Linked DNA regions of Homo sapiens: region 1 is linked to region 2. The links come from fine-mapping of genetic effects on gene expression. A gene starts in region 2. The other region holds a variant in brackets. All regions are shown on one strand. Distances are from middle to middle.

Region 1 (10,943 bases), 23 kb before region 2:
AAAACAAAAACAAAAACAAAAACTTAGCCAGGCATGGTGGCGCATGCCTATAATCCCAGCTACTCAGGAGGCTGAGGCAGGAGAATCGCTTGAACCCAGGAGGCGGAGGTTGTGGTGAGCCAAGATCGCACCATTGCACTCCAGCCGGAGCAACAAGAGGGAAACTCTGTCCCAAAAAACAAACAAACAAACAAACAAAAAGGAATGAATCCCTCAGGGCCAGACTATCTGAGTGGCCTCCCCCAGGGTACAAAGATTCACTATCAAGGTGATGTTTTAGGCCTTAAGCATGTTGTTACCTGGTTTTATTCAAAGTTCAGTTAAGGGATTTTCATTGTTGAACAGCCCAGGAAACAGACTTGAAGCGAAAAACAAATCACAGAGTTTGGAGCCTGGGCAACATATAGCATGATCTCATCTCTACTAAAAATAAAAAGAGTCGGGCACGGTGGCTCACGCCTATAATCCCCAGCACTTTGGGAGGCCAAGGTGGGTGGATAACCTGAGGTCAGGAATTCGAGACCAGCCTGGCCAACATGGTGAAACCCCGTTTCTACTAAAAATACAAAATTAGCTGGGCGTGGTGGCGCATGCCTGTAATCCCAGCTACTCGGGAGGCTGAGGCAGGAGACCCACTTGAACCCGGGAGGTAGGGGTTGCAGTGAGCTGAGATCGCGCTGTTGCACTCCAGTATGGGCAAAACGAGCAAAACTCTGTCTCAAAATAAAATAAAATAAAAAGAACTAGCTGGACATGGTGGTGCATGCCTATACTCCCAGCTACTCAGGAAGCCGAGGCAGGAGGAATAACTTGACCCTGGGAGGTCGAGGCTGCAGTGAGCTTTGATTGCATCATTGCATTCCATCCTGGGCAACAGAGCAAGAAAAAGAGTTGGAGATAGAGATACCACTTTGAGAAATTTCCTCAGATAAACCTGGTTGCAAAGTGCCACCCTTTGCTCCTCACCCTTCAATAACTGAGAGAGCGAGCAGGGAGCAGGCAGGCAGAAGGACCATTCCCACAAACCAGATGAGGAAACTGAAGCTTGGGGAGGGGAAGTCAGTGACTGAACCAGGAGCCGCCTTCAGCCTTAGGACAGCCAGGCCCATATTCCCTTCATCATCCCTGGATACGACCACTCCCAGCCAGACCTCAGGGTAGGGGGTGCTTCAGAGCTGGCTCCCTGGTGACTGAGCACGGCTCTGCTTCAGGTTCCGAGGTGACCTGCGGTGGATCCTCTTCTGTGCAGACCTGCCGTCCCTCATCCAAGAAGGCCCTCAGTATGTGCCCTGATGCGGGAACCCCAGCCCATCTGCTGCCTTTACTCTGCCCTTGCTGGGCTTCTTAAGGACTGATCTGGAGAAGAGGAGTGGATTGTCCCTGCTGGGAGGAGGAGGGAAGGAAAGGGGGAACTTTCCACTCAGGCTTCTGAGTGCCTGCATAGTAAACATAGTTGGGACATGCGAGGAATGAACGAATGAGCCTGGTCCATCTCTCTAACTCCACCTTGGTTCCTCCTCCCAGGAAGCTCAGGTGACCTCTCCCCCGCCTTCCACCCCCAGCCCTCCAGCCCTGGGCTCTCCCCTGAAGGGGAGTCAGGTCTCCCTCGCTGGCCTGGGAGAGGGGAGGGGGACTCCTCCAGGGCAGCAAACCTGTTCCCCAACTCCAGCTTCCAGGTAAGGGGGCTGTGACATAGGATTGACAGGCTGGGCCTCTCTGTCCCCAGATGCGGGCTGGTGGCCTTGTGGATGGCAGGTACTCTCCTGTCGCCCCCCAGTGGCGTCCCCCTGGAGAGACTCATACGGGTGGCCACGGAAAGAGGCTACACGGCCCAGGGAGAGATGTTCTCAGGTGAGCTGGGTGACTGCATGCTCCATCATCTCTTCATGAGGCTGGGACCAGAGAGGCTGGGTGGGATGCTGGCAGCCGTGTGTCAGGGTGTCTCATTCCATTCTTTGGGCCCTTCCCACTGCCCAGTAGAGCAGAGAGGTTACAAGATGGACTTGAGCTGGCTGCCTAGGTTGCAAACCCAGCTCTGCCACCTCTTCGCTGGGGCCATGGACAAGCCACTCACGCTCTTTGTGCCTCATTTTCTGCATTTGTACCAAGGGGTGGAAGGTCATGGTGAGGGTTGGAAGCATCGCCCACTGTGAGCCCTCAGCACGGTGCTGGGCACATGCAGCAAGCCCCCTCTGTGTGCTCTCACCCTGCAGTGGCCGATATGGGCAGGCTGGCCCAGGAGGTGCTGGGCTGCCAGGCCAAGCTGCTCTCTGGTGGCCTGGGCGGTCCCAACAGAGACCTCGTCCTGCAGCACCTGGTCACTGGACATCCCCTGCTCATCCCGTATCCCAGGGCCTGGGAGAGAGGAGGGCAGGGGTGGCAAAGGGTGGGTCCCAGGGCCACACCATCGTTTTTACCTTAATGCCAGCACCAGCTACGACGAGGACTTCAACCATGAGCCGTGTCAGAGGAAGGGCCACAAGGCACACTGGGCGGTGAGTGCAGGTGGGTTCCCCCTCCTTTGTCTGCACCCCTCAACCTGGGTCTCCCCGGCCTCCATTAATCCTCCTGACATTCTCACCCCTTGTGCTGGTGCCTCCCCAGCCAGGCTGGGCACTTAGCATTAGCACCGGGCAGGCTGGGCCCCAGGTGTCTGCCAGTTGGAGCTTCTACAAACAGAAGCTCAGAGCACAGATTTCAGGATCAGACCGTCTGGGCTCCAGGCCTGGCACAGCCTCTTCTAGGCTCTGTGACTCTGGGCAGGTATCATCACCTCTCTGGACAGCTCCTTTCCCCATCTGGAAATTGGGGGTAACAGTACCCACCTCATAAGGCTGCCTTGTAGGCAGAGCACTCAGCACTCTTAGAACAAGGCTTGGCCAGGCGCGGTGGCTCACGCCTGTAATCCCAGCACTTCGGGAGGCCAAGGTGGGTGGATCGCTTGAGGTCAGGAGTTTGAGACCAGCCTGGCCAACATGGTGATACCCTGTCTCTACTAAAAATACAAAAATTAGCCAGGCGTGGTGGTGTATGCCTGAAATCCTAGCTACTTGGGAGGCTGAAGCAGGAAAATTGCTTGGACCTGGGAGGCGGAGGTTGCAGTGAGCTGAGATCGTGCCACTGCACTCCAACCTGGGTGACAGAGCAAGACTCCATCTCAAAAAAAAAAAAAAAATAGAACAGGGCTTGGCGTGTGACATGTCTCTGTAAGTATTACCAGCACCGTTTTCATCATTCCCCCTGCCTGAAAGAAAGAAGGCCAGGTTGGTCCGCGTCAGGAGGTCCGGGGGAGGCTCCGCTCAGCTTCTTCATGGCTTTGTGGTCTTGACAGCTCCTCTTGGAGCCTCTTCCCTAAAGAGCTGAGGATGACCGGGTGACGGCATTTGCTTCATCTCATGCTGCCTCCCCACCTCCCCTGTGCTCAGGCCAGATGAGGCAAGACTTAAAACACCTACAGCTTTGGAGCCGGGTGCCACGGTGGGTCCAAATCCCAACCCACTGGCCACCACTAACGTCACCGTAACCTAGGAATGGCAGCTGCACCCACCCTGGAGGGCCGGGAGAGGGCGGAACTTAGTGAGCCCCAGCACCTGGTCCTGGCTCAGTCACTGCCACTCACCACCTTCTCCTCTCCCCCAGGGGTCCTGCTGGGTGTTCGGGCTGTGCCCAGTCTCGGCTACACTGAGGACCCTGAGCTGCCGGGCCTGTTCCACCCAGTGCTGGGCACGCCCTGCCAACCACCATCCCTGCCAGAGGAGGGCTCCCCGGGAGCTGTCTACCTGCTGTCCAAGCAGGGCAAGAGTTGGCACTATCAGCTGTGGGACTACGACCAGGTCCGGGAGAGCAACCTGCAGCTGACGGACTTCTCGCCCTCACGGGCCACTGACGGCCGGGTGTACGTGGTGCCCGTGGGTGGGGTACGGGCTGGCCTCTGTGGCCAGGCCCTGCTCCTCACACCACAGGACTGCAGCCATTAGCTGCGGCTGCGGTCTCAGGCTGCAGCCTAGCTCGGTAACCATTTGAAGTGTGCCTACACTTCTCCCACTGTGTGATGGCGACAAGATTGAAGCTAGGTCTCAGGGGTCTCCAGTCCTCCTTCATCAGGGCCACCCCCTGCAGTATTGAGCACCAGCTGGTCCCTCTAGGGAGAGATTGACAACAGCCCGGACCCTGCGGCCTGCCTATTCCATCTGAATGTCGCATCGTCTGTTTCTCACTAGGGGCCGCCTCTGTCATCTCACTAGACATTTGAGGAACCTCCTGCCTGGGCCCTCTGCTTCTCACAGGACAGGGACACTGAACTGC[G/A]TCAGCCTCAGCTCACCCCTCCTTAGCCCAAGGTCTTCCTCATGCTTGCCACCTACTAGTCATACTGGCCTTTTAGATCCCTGAAGTGTTGTTCAAATCCCCGGATCATTGAGTCCCACCCCCAGCCCTCTGCTGCGGATCACTCCTTAACTTTTCCATTGGGGCTCAGGTATCACTACCTCAGGGAAGAGTCCTGCAGCCCCAGTCAAGACACCCCTCCCCCACCTCATGTCTTCACAGTTTTAAAGCCCATCTGGGAGCAGTTACCTGTGCCAGCCCCTCTACCTGTGTTAGCAGATCTGGCAACCCTGTAAGGGGGGTGCTAGATGGACCCGATTTGACAGATGGCAAGACTGAGGCCTGGAGAAGTGGAATCACTGGCCTGAGGTCACATGACTAGCACATGGCAAGGTCAGGATTCAAGCTAGGTAGTCAGTATCTCAGCCAGGCTGTCTCCTGGCTCCCTGAACATTATGGTGCTGACCACAAACTTTCCTGTCCACTTATACAAACTTCTAGTGAGTGTGTGTGATTACTAGCTTCATGAATACCTGACCCCTCCACTCTGAAGGAGGAACAGGCCTGTCTGGATCACTTCTCTGTCCCTAACTGAGCCCATCTCATTTAGGGAAACTACAGAGCACTGTTGCTTTTTTTTTTTTTAGATGGAGTCTCGTTCTGTCGTCCAGGCTGGAGTGCGGTGGCGTGATCTCAGCTCACTCCAGCCTCCACTTCCCAGGTTCAAGTGATTCTCCTGCCTCAGCCCCCCAAGTAACTGGGATTACAGGCATGCACCACCATGCCTGGCTAATTTTTTGTATTTTTAGTAGAGACGGGGCTTTGCCATGTTGGCCAGGCTGGTCTCGAACTCCTGACCTTGAGTAATCCACCCGCCTCGGCCTCCCAAAGTGCTGGGATTACAGGTGTGAGCCACTGAGCCCGGCCACAGTGCAGTATTTCTAACCAGTGATCAGGGTAAAGAGGATGCGTGTCCACCATCCCAGCCCTGATCAGCCTGTCTGTGCATCCCCCATCCCAGCCAGGGCTTGGAGCAGCCTTGCTCACCACTGTGTCCCCTGCATTGTAACACATCCAGGCACAAGAATAGCCGCCCAGTGACTGCCAAGTGAGTGAACCAGCCTGCTTGGAGCCTGCCTCTTTCCCAAACTGCTCATTATCCTGTTACCCCACCCAGCCCACGTGTCCAAATACACTCCAGATGCAAAATAAAAAGCTCTACGACATTGGCTCTGAATGTTCTGTTTATTGGGGTGTTGTCATGGGTAGGAGGCTCAGCAGAGCCATTCTGCCTCCTGCTTCCCAGTACTACCCCGTCCAGCAACTGCCTCTCGTATAAATAAGTATCAAGATGGTCAGTAGAAAAGGAGAGCATCTCCTCAGCCCTGGAAGACAGTGTGGGAGCTTCAGCTTAAGGAAGAGGTAGGTGCCTGTCCGCCAGCCCAGCCTCAAGGGCCAGGAAGACCTGGCTATGGGTGCTGGAGGGGCCGTTAGCCACACCCCAGGGTTCTACAGTCTTTGGTTTGGATCAGGCTGCAGGCCAGGGTCCTGGCTGGCAGCCCCACCCACCCTGCGCCTCTGACACACACCCAGCGCTTTTCCCTGCAGGGGCCCGGGATTGGATGGGGCCCTCCTGAGTGCAGCAGCTCTGAGTTGCAAGGGGAGGCCCACTTTCCCAGCCTCTGAACCTCCTTTCTGCCACTGCAGTTTGCTGGGAGAAAGGAGAGAGAAGCCTGGGGGTCAGGCAGGAGGTGTAAGTCCTGAGGCCGGATCTGGTGCACAGAGGAGCGAGGTACTGTCACAGTGCTGGCACAGAAGCTGGGATGTGGCTGTGGTTTGGGTCTGCAGGAGGTCAGCAGAGTCCGCCGAGGAACACGGAGGATCCCACAGGGCCACAGCAGGGCAGGATACCGCCCAGCGGTATCAGCCCTCAGGCCGCATCCAGTCCCATGGGGTCATGCCCTCTGAGCCTCTTGTCGCTCAGCACTCAAATGGCTCCCTGGTGAAGACATGGACTGTCACTCTCCCCAGATGGTCCAGCAGCGCCTGCATCTGTTCACCAATGATGCTGACCCTCTGAGGCGCCACAGATGAGCCTGACCCAGTCCCTGGCCTCAGCCAGCTGGCAGCCTGGAGGCTGACAGGGAGGCAGGTTAGAAGTGATTCATGTGTCCACAGGCACCCTGTCACACCATACCCTGTGACATGTGAACTGAATGCTCTCAGGGCAGCCCCTCAGAAGCCTTCCCGGCAGATCCGGGGACCCCGTTCTGGTTTTTCTGACTCACTGCCTCATCACCTTCCTTCCAGGTCCCCAAAACCCCTGCATCATGATGGGGCCAGGTGCTACCTGGTCTCCCAAGGCCCTTCAGACTTTTCCACGTTGGTCTCGTGTGGCACATGACACAATCTCTCCCGTCCCTGGAGGCCAGCTCCCCCGTGGCCAACCTCAGGCCTCCCATGGCATCTCAGGGCTCCTCCAGCCAGACTGGCGCCATCCAATTAACCTGATGGTGGCTGAGCAGCTCAGCTCTGTGCCAGCCCCTGCAGGAGGCAGATCATGTTGTCCAGGCCCCAGAGGTAGCCGTCCTCACGGTTGCCCTCAGCCCAGGGCAGCCTGTGGCTGAGCGTCTGGTGGTCGGGCAAGGCCACCGTCTTGCCGAAGTCTATCATCCAGACCTTGGCCAGGCCGGTGTGGTCGTGCACGAAGAGGAGGGAGCTGCCTACCACCTGCCGGGGTAGAGACGGGAGGTTAAGGGAGGAGCAGGCACTGGCCAAGGTCCCTTCCTGACAGGCAGCAGAGCAGGGTGATTGACAGCATGAACCCTGGAGCCTGGCTGCCTGATTCATATCCTGGCTGTGCCACCTCCTGTCTGTGCAGCCTTAGGCAGGTGTCTTAACCTCTCTGTGGTTCTGCGTCCTCATATACAAAGTGAGAGTAATACAGTTAGTCTCCCCAGTCCGTGGTTTCATTTTCTTTGGTTTTAGTTACTCTCAGTCAAGTGCGATCCAAAAATATTAAGTGGAAAATTCCAGAAACAAACAATGTGTAAGTTTTAAGTTGCACATTGGTTTAACTACTGTGATGAAATCTCGTGCCATCCCGCTTCGTCCCACCTGGGATGCGAATCATCCCTTTGTTCAGCAAGTCTATGCTGTATCCGCAACCCACCCACTAGTCACCTAGGAGCCATCTTGGTTATCAGATCGAGAAAACACAGTCTATAGTTCAGTACTATCCACAGTTTCCGGCATCCACTGGGGGTTTGGAGGAGATCACCTGAGGATAAGGGGTCGACTGTAGGATCATTTACCTCAGAGGCTGCTGGGCATATTATATGTAGGAATTAATCTACATTAAGTGCTTAAGACAGTGCTTGGTACATAGCAAATACACAGCAAATGTTCAGTGTGAGGCATAATCAAAATGCACTGCAGCCTTGACCTCCTGGACTCAAGCCCTCTTCCTGCCTCAGCCTCCTGAGTAGCTGAGACTACAGGTGTGCACCACCATGCCTAGCTTTGCTTTTTTTTTGAGACAGAGTCTCACTCTGTTGCCCAGGCTGGAGTGCAGTGACACAATCTCAGCTCACTGCAACCTCTGCCTACTGGGTTCAAGCAATTTCTGGCTAATTTTGTTGTTGTTGTTGTTGTTGTTGAGACAGAGTCTCACTCTGTTGCCCAGGCTGGAGTGCAGCGGCACAATCTCGGCTCACTGCAAGCTCCACCTCCCGGGTTCATGCCATTCTCCTGCCTCAGCCTCCCAAGTAGCTGGGACTACAGGCGCCCGCCACCACGCCCGGCTAATTTTTTGTATTTTTTAGTAGAGACGGGGTTTCACTGTGTTAGCCAGGATGGTCTCGATCTCCTGACCTCGTGATCTGCTCACCTCGGCCTCCCAAAGTGCTGGGATTACAGGCATGAGCCACCGCACCCAGCCAATTTTTGTATTTTTAATAGAGACGGGGTTTCGCCATGTTGGCCAGGCTGGCCTCAAACTCCCGACCTCAAGTGATCCGCCCGCCTCAGCCTCCCAAAGTGCTGGGATTACAGGCATGAGCCACTGCACCCGGCCTTTTTTTTTTTTTTTTTTTCCAAATAGAGACGGGGTCTTGCTGTGCTTCCCAGGCTGGTCTTGGCACTCCTGGGCTCCAGCAATCCTCCCACCTCAGCCTCCCAAAGTGCTGGTATTACAGGTGCGGGCCACAACGCCCAGCCCCTTTTTATATCTTTGACCTGTAACTCATCAATGGTTTCCCCTCCATGCACCTGGACCCCGACACCCATACATCCACCCATGGAAGCCAGGGCTCGCACCTCGTGGGTCTTGAAGAAGGGGGAGATCTCCAGAGCTTCACGAAGTTCTTCTAGGCATGCCACGTACTTTTGCTGTGTGACAGGGAGCGTTCTTTGGTTAGCATGGGGACTTTGTGGGGCCTTGCCCACCTTGAGCTCTGACCTCACCCCATTCCCCCAAAGGAGCAGGCAGGCTCTAGCCAGGATGGAATAGGGGAGCCATGGGGAAGACAGGGCAGAGGAGTGAGGGCTTGGATTCATCAAGGTGGCATGGAGAAGAGTGGTGGATTCCATGAATTTCCACTCCCATCCGGAGGCGGAGTCTGTCTCCAGACCCCTCGATCCAGGCTGGGTCACATGACTTGCCGAACGGCAGAAATGATGGTGGCCATTCTGAGCCCAGGCATCAAGAGGCCTTGCATTTTTACTTGTTCTCTTGGCCCCCTGCCTCCACTGTGAGAGCAAGCCCAGGCCATCCTGCTATCGAGAGACGTGCGGCCAAGTCATGAGCCAACCGGCAGAGCTGGGAGCAGGGCCCCCTGGACCAGCCAGCCTTGCCAAGCCACCAGCTGACCTCAGACTGAGCAAAGCCAGCCAGTATCAGTCCAGCCCCACCCAAAGCAGAAGACCACTGACTCTGGAGCAAGAATAAATGGTGGCTGTCTTAAGCTGCTACATTCTGGGACATGGGTGTCCCACTCACCAGGATGACGTGGTCTCCATCCACGAAGTCCTCCAGCACTTTTGTCACCTGCTCCAGTGCCTGCGTCTTCTTGAAGTTGGTGTTACAGGTCCCATCTGCCTTCTGTAGGGCAGGGTGTGGAGGGGCAGGGTCATGGGCTTTTCCTTCCCGCACCCAATACCCAGCAACCTCAAATACCTCCCAGGAGGCCGGGCGCGGTGGCCAAGACCAGCCTGGGCAACACAGCAAGACCCCATCTCTATTTAAAAAAAAAAAAAATTCTGGTGTGGTAGTATGCACCTGTGGTCCCAGGTGTGGGATCATGCCTATAATCCCAGTGCTTTGGGAGGCCGAGGCGGGAGGATCACTTGAGGTCAGGAGTTCACAACCAGCCTGGCCAACACGGTGAAACCCCGTTTCTACTAAAAATACAAAAAATTAGCCAAGTGTGGTGGCGGGCGCCTGTAATCCCAGCTACTCGGGAGGCTGAGGCAGGAAAATCGCTTAAACCCGGGAGGCAGAGGTTGCAGTGAGCATTGATTGCACCACTACATTCGAGCCTGGGTGACAGAACAAGACTCTGTCTCAAAAAAAACAACTTCCCAGGGCCACCCACCTGCCTGCACACTTGCTGCCAGAGGAGGAAGCCAGCTTACCTGCCCAGCCCAGCTCAACCCAGCCCCAGGTCACATGCCTGAGCCCCAGTCCTTCCACACCCTTCCAACCTTGAACCTCCTGGTTGAACCCATCTAGGAAAGTGGGCTTTGGAGCAGGGTGGAGCTGGCTGTGAATCGTGACTCTGCTCTTTTCTTTTTTTTTTTGACAGAGTCTCACTCTGTCACCCAGGCTGGAGTGCAGTGGTGCAACCTGGGCTCACTGCAAGCTCCGCCCCCTGGGTTCATGCCATTCTCCTGCCTCAGCCTCCTGATAGCTGGGACTACAGGCTCCCGCCACCACGCCTGGCTAATTTTTTGTATTTTTAGTAGCAACGGGGTTTCACCATGTTAGCCAGGATGGTCTCGATCTCCTGACCTCATGCTCCGCCCGCCTTGGCCTCCCAAAGTGCTAGGATTACTGGCGTGAGCCACTGCACCTGGCCATCTCTGCTCTTTTCTAGCTGGGCAGTCTTAAGTCATTTCAGCTGCCTCAGCCTCAGTTTCCTCATCTGGAAAACGGGAATTGTGTTGGTGTCTACTTGCTAAGGCTGGTGTAAGGATTAGAGGAAACCAGGTGTGTAGGATGCACAGCACAGTGCCTGGCATATAGTTATTTGAGACTAATGAGACTAATGTTATCTGTTATGTTTCAGTAGGGCTCAGAGAACCCACCTAAGTCATCTGCCACACTGTGCCAGGTGCTATGTGGGCACTTGGCAATAGGGAGTAACACGACAGACACAGTCAGATGAGGGGGCAGACACTGATTAAGATGATCAGAAAGGAAGATAAGAATAATGAAAGAGTATAAGGAGCTATGAGGAGGTGAAGAGGGGACCCTGATCAGTAGAACAGAAATCAGGGAGGGCTTCCCTGAGGAAGCAAAATTTGAAAGGAGACAGAAAAATGACTGAGAATCAACCAGACCAGGGGGCACAGACGGAAGAGACCAGGGTGTGGTGGCACGCACCTGTGTCCCAGCTACT
Region 2 (10,943 bases):
GTAATGATGAAAAGAAAAAGATGAACAGAAGTAGACAAAGAGAGAGAGAACAAAGGAAACCACAAAAGCAGCGGGTACGATGGCTTACGCCTGTAATCTCAACACTGGGAAACCAAGGTGGGAGGACCACTGAGCCCAGGAGATTGAGGCCAGCCTGGGCAATATAGCAAGACCCCATCTCTACAAAATGTTTAAAAATTAGGCCGGGCGCAGTGGCTCATGCCTGTAATCCCAGCACTTTGGGAGGCTGAGGCAGGCGGATCATGAGGTCAGGAGATTGAGACCATCCTGGCTAACACAGTGAAACCCCGTCTCTACTAAAAATACAAAAAATTAGCTGGGCATGGTGGCGGGCACCTGCAGTCCCAGCTACTCGGGAGGCTGAGGCAGGAGAATGGTGTGAACCTGAGAGGCAGAGGTTGCAGTGAGCCGAGATTGTGCCACTGCACTCCAGCCTGGGCGAGAAAGCGAGACTCCATCTCAAAAAATAAATAAATAAATAAATAAAAAATTAAGAATCAGCTAGGCGTGGTGGTGTGCACCTGTAGTCCCAGCTACTCAGGAGGCTAAGGTGGGAGGATCACTTGAGCCCTGGAGGGTGAGGCTGCAGTGAGCAGTGATTGTGCCACTGCACTCCAGACTGGGTGACCCAGTGAGACCCTGACTCAAAAAAATAAGAAAGAAAGAAAGAAAACCAGAGAAGCAAATAGAAAACAGGGTTTTCGTTGTATCATGCCGACTAAACTATGAGCTTTTTGAGACAGGGTTAGTGTCTGATTCATGAACACATACACACACAGGAATACATTCTGCACCCCACAAGCATGTCAAGTCCCTTAGCAAGTACTGGAAGAGTGGGTCACCTCCAGAGAAGGAAACTGTATGGCTCATCCCTCTCCTACCCCAGGATCAGGGACGTGTTCATCTCTCCCGCCCCCTCAGAGCCCAGCTACCTCACAGACATCTCTTTGACAGTGGGAAGGTTAAGAGGGAGTCAGGGTTCGGGAAGGGCTAGTCCCTCCCCAATCCAGCTGCCGGCCCTGGGGAAGAGATGATTAATAAAGGTTCCTGTTTACTAAGTACCTGGAACATTCCAGACACAATGACAAAGACTCAGTGTGCCACAACCTACTTAATTTCTAAAAACACAACCCCAGGGAGATTATCGTCTCGGTGTTACAAAGGAGGAAACAGAGGGTCTGAGAGGTGAAGCCACTTACCTAACATCACCCCACACAGCGCTGGGGTTCTAGCTCTGGTTGGATCCCAGTGCCTTGGGGCTTATCCCCTACACACTTGCTGGACTACAAGCTCATGATGGCAGAGACTGGGGTTGTCATGGTTATGATTATGTCCCCAGCACATGGCCTGGCACACGACAGACGCTCCAGAAACATTCTTTGATGCTTGGACTGAAGAATGTTAGTTGGGATTTTTTTAATAGTAATTTTTTTTTTTTTTGAGACAGGATCTCACTCTGTTGCCCAGGCTGGAGTGCAGAGGTGTGATCTTGGCTCACTGCAACCTCTGCCTCCCAGGCTCAAGCAATCCTCCTGCTTTAGCCTCCCGAATAGCTGGAAAACAGGCATATACCACCACATCTAGCTAGTTCTTTTTTCCTTTTAGTAGAGATGAGGTCTCACTGTGTTGCCCAGGGTGGTCTCAAATTTCTGGGCTCAGGCAATCCTCCCACCTCAGCCTCCCAAAGTGCTGGGATTATAGGCATAAGCCACCACACCTGGCCCCTTAATCATAAACATAATATCTTCTCTCTCTGTTTTATGTTAGATCCGGGCCGGGCACAGTGGCTCATGCTTGTAATCCCAGCACTTTGGGAGGCTGAGGTGGGTGGATCACCTGAGGTCAGGAGCTCAGAACCAGCCTGGCCAACATAGTGAAACCCACTCTCTACTAAAAAAAAAAATTAGCCGGGCGTGGTGGCGTGCGCTTGTAGTCCCAGCTACTTGGGAGGCCGAGGCAGGAGAATCACTTGAACCCGGGAGGCTGAGGTTGCAGTGAACTGAGATCTCGCCACTGCACTTCAGCCTAGGCAACAGAGTGAAACTCCGCACTGCACGCCCTCCAAAAAAAAAAAAAAAGTTAGATCCAATGGTTTATCTGGGCTTTCTCGGATTTTTTTCACAATGGTCTCAGCTTATATGCCCCTTCCTCCAGGAAGCCCTCTCTGATACCCTGTGTCTGGCCAGTGACCTCCTTCTGGGCTCACACATCCTCCTGACCACTCTGAACTGTGACTGTCGGCTGATTGGTCTGTCTCTTTCATGGGCCTGGGAGCTCCATGAGTGTCTTGGTCACTGCTGTTTCCCCAGCAAAGCTAACATAGGACCAAATACATGGTAGGGGCTTAGGGAGTGATTTTTGTCTCATTAGAAGAATAGGATAGCACACCTGTAATCCCAGCACTTTGGGAGGCTGAGGCAGGAGGATCACTTGAGCCCAGGAGTTCAAGACCAGCCTGGGCAAGATAGCAAGACCCCATCCCTACCAAAAAAAGAAAAAGAAAGAGAACACAATTTTAAAAAAAGGACAGGATGGTGAGAAGGAAGGAAGGAGGAAAGGGAGAAAGGAAGCTGAGCCTTTACGGTCAGAGAGGATTTCAAAATTAAGGGAGAAGGAAGCACGGGTATGCTGGGCAGTGGGAACGGCTTGAGCAATGCGTGGAGGCAGGACAACAGAAGAGTGTTCAAGGAACAGTGTGTACTCAGGCCTAGTTACAGCAGAGGGGGTCAGGAGGAGGGAAGGAAGTCGATTCTGGGAAGGCGCCTGGAGACCGGAGGCTCCAAACGCAGCACTGAGCCCCTGACTGCTCTCAGAGAGGGCACCTGAGCAGACAAAGCTGGGCCATGGAGGCAGATTCTGGAAGGATGAGAAAAAAACTGGAGATAGGGAGGCCTGGGAGGGAGACAAGTTAGGAACAGATCTACACACTGGAGGGTTTAAACGATGGGTTTGAAACTCAGCCAGAACTGAGTTAGAATCCTGGCTCTGACTTGACGTGGCCAACCCTAAGCAAAGAATCTCTCACCTCTCTATGCCTCAGCTTCCCCATCTGTTGTTTTTGTTTTTTTTTTTTTGAGACCGAGTCTTGCTCTGTCACCCAGGCTGGAGTGCAGTGGTGCAATCTCGGCTCACTGCAACCTCCGCCTCCCACATTCAAGCGATTCTCCTGCCTCAGCCTCCCAAGTAGCTGGGATTACAGGTGCCCGCCATCACACGCCTGGCTAATTTTTGTATTTTAGTAGAGACAGGGTTTCATCATGTTGGCCAGGCTGGTCTTGAACTCCTGACCTTAGGTGATCCCCCTGCCTCGGCCTCCCAAAGTGCTGGGATTACAGGCTTGGGCCACTGAGCCTGGCCCCCATCTGTTGAATGGAGACAATCTCAGTGCTGTCATAAGGACTCAGAGTTAACACATACAAAGCCCTTAATTAAGATAGATGCTATTTTAAGATAAAAAATGACAGAAAAAAATTGACAAAAAAGACTAAAAAAAAAAAAGAAGAAAAAACTTAAAACAGTGTCTGGTGTACAGTAAGGATTAGAATTATTTGATCTGCATCTTGCAAGGTGATATCCTTGGACAAGTGACTTGAATTCTCTGTGCCTCAGTTTCCTCATCTGTAAAAGGGGATAATAATAGTATCTACCTCAGCCGGGTGCAGTGGCTCATGCTGGTAATTCCAGCACTTCGGGAGGCTGAGGCGGGTGGATCACTTGAGGTCAGGAGTCTTGAGGTCAGCCTGGCCAACATGATGAAACCCTGTCTCTACTCAAAATACAGAAATGAGCCAGGTGTGGTGGCGGGCACCTGGTGTCTCACCTACTCAGGAGGCTGAGGCAGGACAATCACTTGAACCCAGGAAGTGAAGGCTGCAGTGAGCCGAGATGGCACCACTGCACTCCAGCCTGGGCAACAGAGCGAGACTGTCTCAGAAAAAAAAAAAAAGTATCTACCTCATTAGGGTTGCTGCGAGGAGTGAGTGAGTTAATAAAAGCACAGCACTTAGCACAGGGCTAAACATGAGTGAGTGCTAATTGTTGTTGTTATTATTATTATTATTATTATTATTATTCACCCACTTCCAGCTCAGCTGTTCTGAGATGCCAAGGAAGTGAGAGGGCAGGCAGAGAGAAAAAAGCAATGGGGCCCAGGAGGGTCAGCCCCTGCACACAGGCACAGGCACGTCAAGGCAGGTCTGTCTCTCACAGCTAGGGCCACATGTGTGAACACGTCCCCAAGGAAGGCATGTGGGGTGAAGCGGGGCTCAGGGCAGACTCCAGCCAGGGGCCCCAGAGCAAAAAGAGGCCTCAGCAGGCAAGCTGGCAAGCTGATGGACTCCGGACTCGGCTCCCAGCCCCACGGCTCCCAGCCCCACGTGAGGCTCTCCAGTTTCACACCGGCCTCTGCTCTGTCCCGCCCTCCCTGAACCTGCCCGGCCGGTCCTCCTGATTCACCAGGGGAGAGCCACACCCAAGCTGGGGGTGACGGTGGACAAAGTAAACAAGAGTGTTCAGGGGGCTCCTTGGGGATGTAGGGGTCACAGGGGAGACCAGGTGGGCTCCCGGCTAGGCCAAGGATCCTTTGGCGTTTGGGGTCACACAGCCCTTTTGCGAATCTGATGCAAGCTGGGGGAATCGCTTTGCTCCCTAGAAAAATGTACATACAAATAGGCTAAGGGGTGGTGAAGGTTTGTGACCCTTTAAGACAGCCACAGGCCCCAGATTAAGAAATGTGGGGTAGAAAGTGCACCCTGCCTGTCTCCCTATCCCAGTGTTCTTCAGATTCCAGAGGATTAGACAGATGTCAGACCGTCGCTGCAACAATGTATGTGAACACGCACGGCAGGCTCCTTAGTCCTACAATTTCAGGGGTTCCTGGGCCCCATAAAGTCGGTCAGTGGCCCTCCATTGTAGACCCCCAGGAGTGGAGACAGTGCAGGAAGGGGAAAGGAGAGAATTAAGAAGGGGTGCCTGGAGTGAATTAGTAACCTGGCTGTCAGAGGGAGGAGGTCAGTGGATGGAAGAGGTTCCCGGAGATGAAATTGCTGGTGGGCAACTAACAGTAAATGGGTAGAGAACTTCCTAAGCAAAGGCGGAGGAATAAGGAGTTTTGCGTGATGTGGCTCAAGGGCAGGATGGGTCCCACTCACCCCAGACCTGTCCTCGGGATCGCTGGCACCTCCGCCCCCGGCCACCACGTCATCCTCAGACTCGTCGAAAGAAGAGGCAGAGGAGAAGCCGCCGCTGCCCCCCTCAACCCGGGAGGGGGGTCCCACTGGCTGGGCCTCAGGCTCAGGGGTCTCAGGGGTAATGATGAGGCGGGGCACAGGGCACAGGGGGCTACACTTCAGGTGAGAGTACAGGTGAGTCAGCAATTCTCCAGGCTCTGGTTCCTCTAATGGGCCATCCTCAGGCTCTCCCAAGAGGCAGTCTGTCCCAGGTGCTGTCTGGGAACCGTCAGTGCTAGGTTGTGTCCAGGAGCCATCAGTATCCTGTTGTATTTGGAAACCACCAGTGCCAGGCTGTTTCCTGGCTGCTTCAGTATCCTGTTTTTTCTGGGAGCCATCAGTATATGGCTCTGTCCAGGGACCTTCAATATCCTGTTGTGTCCTGGAGCCATCAGTATACAATTCTTTCCAGGAGCCATCAGCACTTGGCTCTTTTGAGGGACAGGCTCCTTCTGGGTGAGTCTGGAGGCTGGAACTGTTCTGGTGGGTCCAGAGGTTATCAGCCCAGGACTTGACCCTCTCTGGCTGAGTCTGTGACCCATGCGTTTCCAGCTCTGTCCAGGGCCCATGAACCCCTGGCTGTGTCCAGGGGCTGGCCTCCTCGGGCTGAAACTGGAGGTCGGACCTGTGCGGATCAGTCCAAAGGCCATCTGTCCCGGTCTCCGTCCAAAGACAAGTCGTCTCCAGCTCTGACCAGCTCCATTCTAGATGCGTCCGGAGGCTGGACCTGTCTGGCTCCGTCTTTTGCTTGGGCCTCTCGGTCTCTACTCCAAGGCCAGCTGCCGCGGGCTCAGTCTGTCCGTCTGTCCAGAATTCTGCCTGCGGACTCTCTGTCCCCGGCGCAGGCCCGAGGCCGGCCCTCTCAGGCTCGCTGTGGAGGCTGGACCCCTCTGTCCGGGCCCAGGGCCCGCCCCCCTCCGGCCGCCCCGCCGGGGCCCCTGCGCCGGGCCCAGGTCGCTGCTGTCCCGGCTGCCGCCGCCGCCCTCCTCGCGGCGCCTCCAGTCCCATGCGGGCCGCCGCGGGCAGCGCCCCGGCCTCCGCCTCGTTCAGGCTCCCACGGCACGGGCAGCGCCTCATGCCCGCTCCTTCGGTTCGGGCTTCGGCCGACCCGGCCCCTCCTATCCCTTTAAATCCCGCGAGGGGTGTGGCTGGGGAGCCCCGACTCCCGGGTTCCGGCCCGCGGAGCTCCAGCCCGCCCCGCCGCGCAAGGGTTAACCGATACTCCCCTCAAAGGGGAAAGCCCCGAAGCCCCGCCCCACCGGACGTGACGGAACGGAACGAGACGGAGCCTTGTCCGACTCCGCCTCCCAAGGGGAGGGGGTTTGCCTCTGAGCATCCGAAGCGCGGCCAGGTATGCATCTAGGGCACCGGGGTCCTGGTGGCGCGCCAGTGGGCCCCCTCCCTCCACCCCTGTGACTAAACCACCCTCCCTACACGGTTGAATGACAAGTTCAACCTTCCCTAAAACCCCCGGTGACGAGTCCAGCCGCGCGCCCATTCTTCACGCAGGGGCGGGACGGACTTTCAAAGACTTGGAGTTCCCACGGGTGTGGGTTCGAGACCTTCCTCTGCCAGTTCCCAGCTCCGCTACCCTGAGCAAATGACTTACGCTCCATTGGATTTTCCGTAAGAAATCTCTGTCATGTATAGAGTACTTGTTCTGTATCAGACCCTGACACGATTTCAGTTCATTCTCCAAGGCTGAACAATAGGGATGCCAGGGCTCCATTTTACACGTGAGAACAGAGGCTCAGAGATCTGCCGGCCTCTACCCTTTGCTTGCAGCTACGGGGCTATCTGACATGATCTCATGTATGTGAAGCATGTGGCCCCGGGCCTGGCACTGTCAGTTGTAGCCCAGTAGGATTATTTATTGTCCTAGGTGATTTTGATATATTTTGCCCCCAAGGCTGAGCTGCCACCCAGCTCCTGAGTCAGCCGTTCACCTCTGAAGGGGGAGAGGAGGTGGTTTGTCTTGAAATTGAGTCAACTGGGGGAGACATTGGGCACAGGTCCAAGGCTCTAAAATGAGTCACCTTTTCACAGACCAATGAGAGAAATCGAAGGCAGGAGCCCACCTAGTACCTCATACAGGTTGGGAAGGAGAAGTCCAGAGAGGGATGAGGGCTTTTCTGAGGTCACACAGTACGGGAATAGAGACAAAGAGGCCTGATTCCCGACAAGAGGGGTTGGGGCAGCGGGGTTCTGTGGGGGAAGCATCGGCATCCCTCCCTCTCCCAGTGGTGGGAAAGATGCCCCAACCAGATGCCTCTATTCCAGACTGTGAGAAGTGGGTGAGTCAGCCTGTTGTGGGGAGAGCAGGCTTTCCAACGCGCGCGCGCACACACACACACACACACACACACAGAGAAAGAAAGATAGGATGGGAGGTGGTTTTCTGGGATGCCAAGGTTCCTGACTCAGCACTGGGAATCTTGGCTGAGTGTGTTCTGGGAAATGTCAGGCCTACAGGAAGCAGAGGGCTCCCAGTCGCACCATTCCGCAGGTGGGCGGGGAGCGGAGAGAACAGGGTGTGTGAGGGAACAGAGACTCAGTGTGCAAGTGGGGGGGAGGGTATGTACACGAGAGAGTTGAAGGCGTGAGCGGGAAACAGTTGGCAAGCAAGGCAAGGGATTTATATGCACAAGGAAGGAGGTTGGGTGCCAGAATGTGGGTGTTTGTGCAAAGTGGAGGGGCTCCATGTGCAAGGGAAATGTTTGCTGGGAAGAATGTGTATTCAAAGGAATTGTGTTGAGCCTGCCAGGGGTAAAAATAAGAAGGGGGGTTGGCAAGATATTCGTGCAGAAGAGAGGCGTCAGGTTTGTAAGGGAGACTTTGCAAGAAAGTGTAGGGAACAGAAGGGTCTGTCGCGTACAAGGCACTTTGAGGTGAGTGGAAGGGCAGACAGGGCACGCTTGCGCTCCCGCGATGCCTCAGCAATCCCCCCAGATGGGCCCCCGATGCCCACCTTAATTCCAGGCTCCATCGCTAGGGCCTCTCTCTGGCCCCTTCCCCCGCGCACAGATGGAGAAACTCCGTGCCAGTCAGCGAGTTGCTGCCGCGCCATTGGTTGGCTGGCCGAAGGGGGCGGGCATACAGAGGCTCCCGGAAGCACAGGAGGGCCCCAGCAGGTTGCGGACTCGGAGGCTGAGAGCAGTGGGTGCTTAGCAACGGGGGGAGGTGCTCAGTAACGGGGTGGGGATCGGGCGGGGGGACACCGGAGGAATTGCGGGTGCCTACAGGGCCAACAGAGGGGAAGGCGGTGCATAGCAACGAGGGGGGTTTCAGAGAAGTGGAGAGGTAGCCCCTGAGGAACTGTGGGTGTCTAGTAACGGGGGCGGACCCTAGCAACGGCGAGGGTTGGGAGAGGGGGGAAAGTGGGTTTTGGGAGGCCTGCAGGAAGAGCTAAGGGTTCCTAGCAACCAGGGGAGAACCAGGAGAAACTGTGGGAATCTATTAATAGTGGAGGAAGTATTTAGTGGGTGGGAATGAGAGAGGGTGGACACAGAGGAACATGGGGGCCTGGCCAAGAAGCCAGGCAACTCCCACCTGAATAATCCCTCCTCTTCTCCTCCAGGCAATGTGGCTGAAGGTGGGGGGCCTACTTCGGGGGACCGGTGGACAGCTGGGCCAGACTGTTGGTTGGCCTTGTGGGGCCCTGGGGCCTGGGCCCCACCGCTGGGTAAGAGGCTAGGGAGCAGGTCCCCAAGGGGAAGAGGCTGAGGGAGACTTCAGAGGGTAAAAGGACAGGAGGGGTCCAGAAGGGCCAGGTGATCCCATGTCCTCCCCTCCTTATCAAAGTATATCTCTTGCAGGGACCATGTGGAGGTTCTTGGGCCCAAAAGTTTTACCAGGATGGGCCTGGGAGAGGCCTGGGTGAGGAGGACATTCGCAGGGCACGGGAGGCCCGTCCCAGGAAGACACCCCGGCCCCAGGTATCATTACCCCCACCCACCCAGCAACACCCCACGAATACTGCTGGCCCCCTGAGCTTGGGGAAGGGTGTGGTGGCAGAGTGGCTGCACTCTCTGGCCACGATGCCCACTTTCCCACCCTCAGACCTTGTCCCCATTTCCCAGCTGAGTGACCGCTCTCGAGAACGCAAGGTGCCTGCCTCCCGCATCAGCCGCTTGGCCAACTTTGGGGGTAGGTGTGACTTTGGGGGATCTTGGTGTGACCTCAATTAGAAAGGGCAACATTTACAGATTGAAGCAAGGGAGAGGATGAATCAGAGACAGGAAAGAGAGAGAGACAAAAAAAGAGAGACAAAGGCAAGGGCCTGCAAGGCCAAGAGAAATCAAGAGGAACATAAATGATAATTTTTTTTTTTTTTTTTGAGACAGAGTCTCACTTTGTCACCCAGGCTGGAGTGCAGTGGCGCGATCACTGCAGCCTCAAACTTCTGGGCTCAAGCAATTCTCTCGCCTCAGCCTCCTGAGTAGCTGGGACCACAGTTGTGCACCATCCGCCCGGGTAATTTTTTTTTTTTTTTCCTTTGAGACAGAGTCTCGCTCTGTTGCCCAGGCTGGAGTGCAGTGGCACCGTCTTGGCTCATTGCAACCTCTGCCTCCTACATTCAAGCAATTCTCCTGCCACAGCCTCCTGAGTAGCTGGGATTACAGGTGCCTGCCACTATGCCTGGCTATTTTTTTTTTTTTTTTTTTGAGACGGAGTATCCCTCTGTCACCCAGGCTGGAGTGCAGTGGCGCCATCTTGGCTCACTGCAACCTCCACCTCCCGGGTTCAAGCCGATTCTCCTGCCTCACACTCCCAAGTAGCTGGGATTACAGGCATGCATCCACCACACCCGGCTAATTTTTGTATTTTTAGTAGAGACGGGGTTTCACCATGTTTGTCAGGCAGTGGTAGAGCTTTGGCACCAGGCTGCCCAGGGTTCAAGGGATGACTCTGCTATGTCCTCGCTTTGTGATCCGCCTGCCTCAGCCTTCCCAAGTGCTGGGATTACAGGCGTGAGCCACCACACCTGGCCGCCTGGCTAATTTTTGTACTTTTAGTAGAGACAGAATTTCACCATGTTGGCCAGGCTGGTCTTGAACTCCTGACCTCAAGTGATCCACCCACTTCGGCCTCCCAAAGTGTTGGGATTTACAGATGTGAGCCACGGTGCCCGGGAAGCCACTGTGCCTGGCCTGGGTAATTTAAAAAATATTTTTTTGTAGAGATAGGGTCTCCCTATGTTGCTCAAGTTGGTCTCAAGCGATCCTCCTGCCTCGGCCTCCCGAAGTGCTGGGGTTCTAGGCATGAGCCACTGCTCCTGGCCATAATAACATTTACTGAGAACCTGTAATGTGCAGTGTCCCATATACACACATGCTGCACTGAATCAATGAGTGTTCTATTCCGTACATGAGGACATTGAGGCTAACAAAGGGGAGGTCACTTGACTTTGGGTTACACAGCCGGATGTCGTGCAAGTCACATGAAATAATTTAGTGGGTTGCAACCAGCATTTAAAAAGAAGAATAGGACAGAAAATATGCATGCACCTGTAGAGCAAGGGAAAGTCTTGTTTCGTGAAACATATACCTTGGTCTGCACTGGTTATAACGTAAATGTCTTCTTATTGCTGATCATGGTTCAAGTTTTGTTTTTGTTTTTGTTTTTGAGATGGAGTCTTGCTCTGTCACCCAGACTGGAGTGCAGTGGCATGATCTCAGCTCACTGCAACCTCCA

Direction of the effects. Alleles are on the strand shown, and positions count from the first base shown. SD is a standard deviation of normalised expression in the study named.
For the expression in lymphoblastoid cells of the gene that starts at base 6,350 in region 2, allele A in region 1 goes with a lower level than allele G (moderate effect, 0.68 SD a copy in GEUVADIS).

What was found. PIP is the estimated chance that this variant, and not a neighbour inherited with it, causes the effect.
Region 1: its variant is fine-mapped to the expression of ITPKC in lymphoblastoid cells (GEUVADIS, PIP 0.90).

The regions. Positions count from the first base shown.
Region 1 is chr19:40,735,467-40,746,409 of GRCh38, reverse strand. ITPKC (inositol-trisphosphate 3-kinase C) reads right to left here. Exons shown (of 7, transcript NM_025194.3): 5 at 9,323-9,424; 6 at 8,641-8,712; 7 at 5,550-7,053. The coding sequence ends at 6,850. It overlaps ACTMAP (actin maturation protease), which reads left to right. Exons shown (of 6, transcript NM_198476.5): 2 at 1,212-1,280; 3 at 1,727-1,851; 4 at 2,214-2,343; 5 at 2,435-2,505; 6 at 3,640-5,549. The coding sequence ends at 3,977. Among named protein-coding and RNA genes, the nearest start is that of ACTMAP, 9.5 kb to the left of the region's middle. RefSeq lists enhancers at 436-1,401, 1,402-2,368. The variant G/A (reference allele first, on the strand shown) is at 4,306.
Region 2 is chr19:40,712,519-40,723,461 of GRCh38, reverse strand. ITPKC (inositol-trisphosphate 3-kinase C) reads right to left here and starts at 6,350. Exons shown (of 7, transcript NM_025194.3): 1 at 5,172-6,350. The coding sequence starts at 6,326. COQ8B (coenzyme Q8B) reads left to right here and starts at 6,576. Exons shown (of 15, transcript NM_024876.4): 1 at 6,576-6,875; 2 at 8,827-8,931; 3 at 9,065-9,184; 4 at 9,329-9,395. The coding sequence starts at 8,830. RefSeq lists enhancers at 3,825-4,526, 7,030-7,109 and silencers at 6,100-6,459, 7,780-7,829.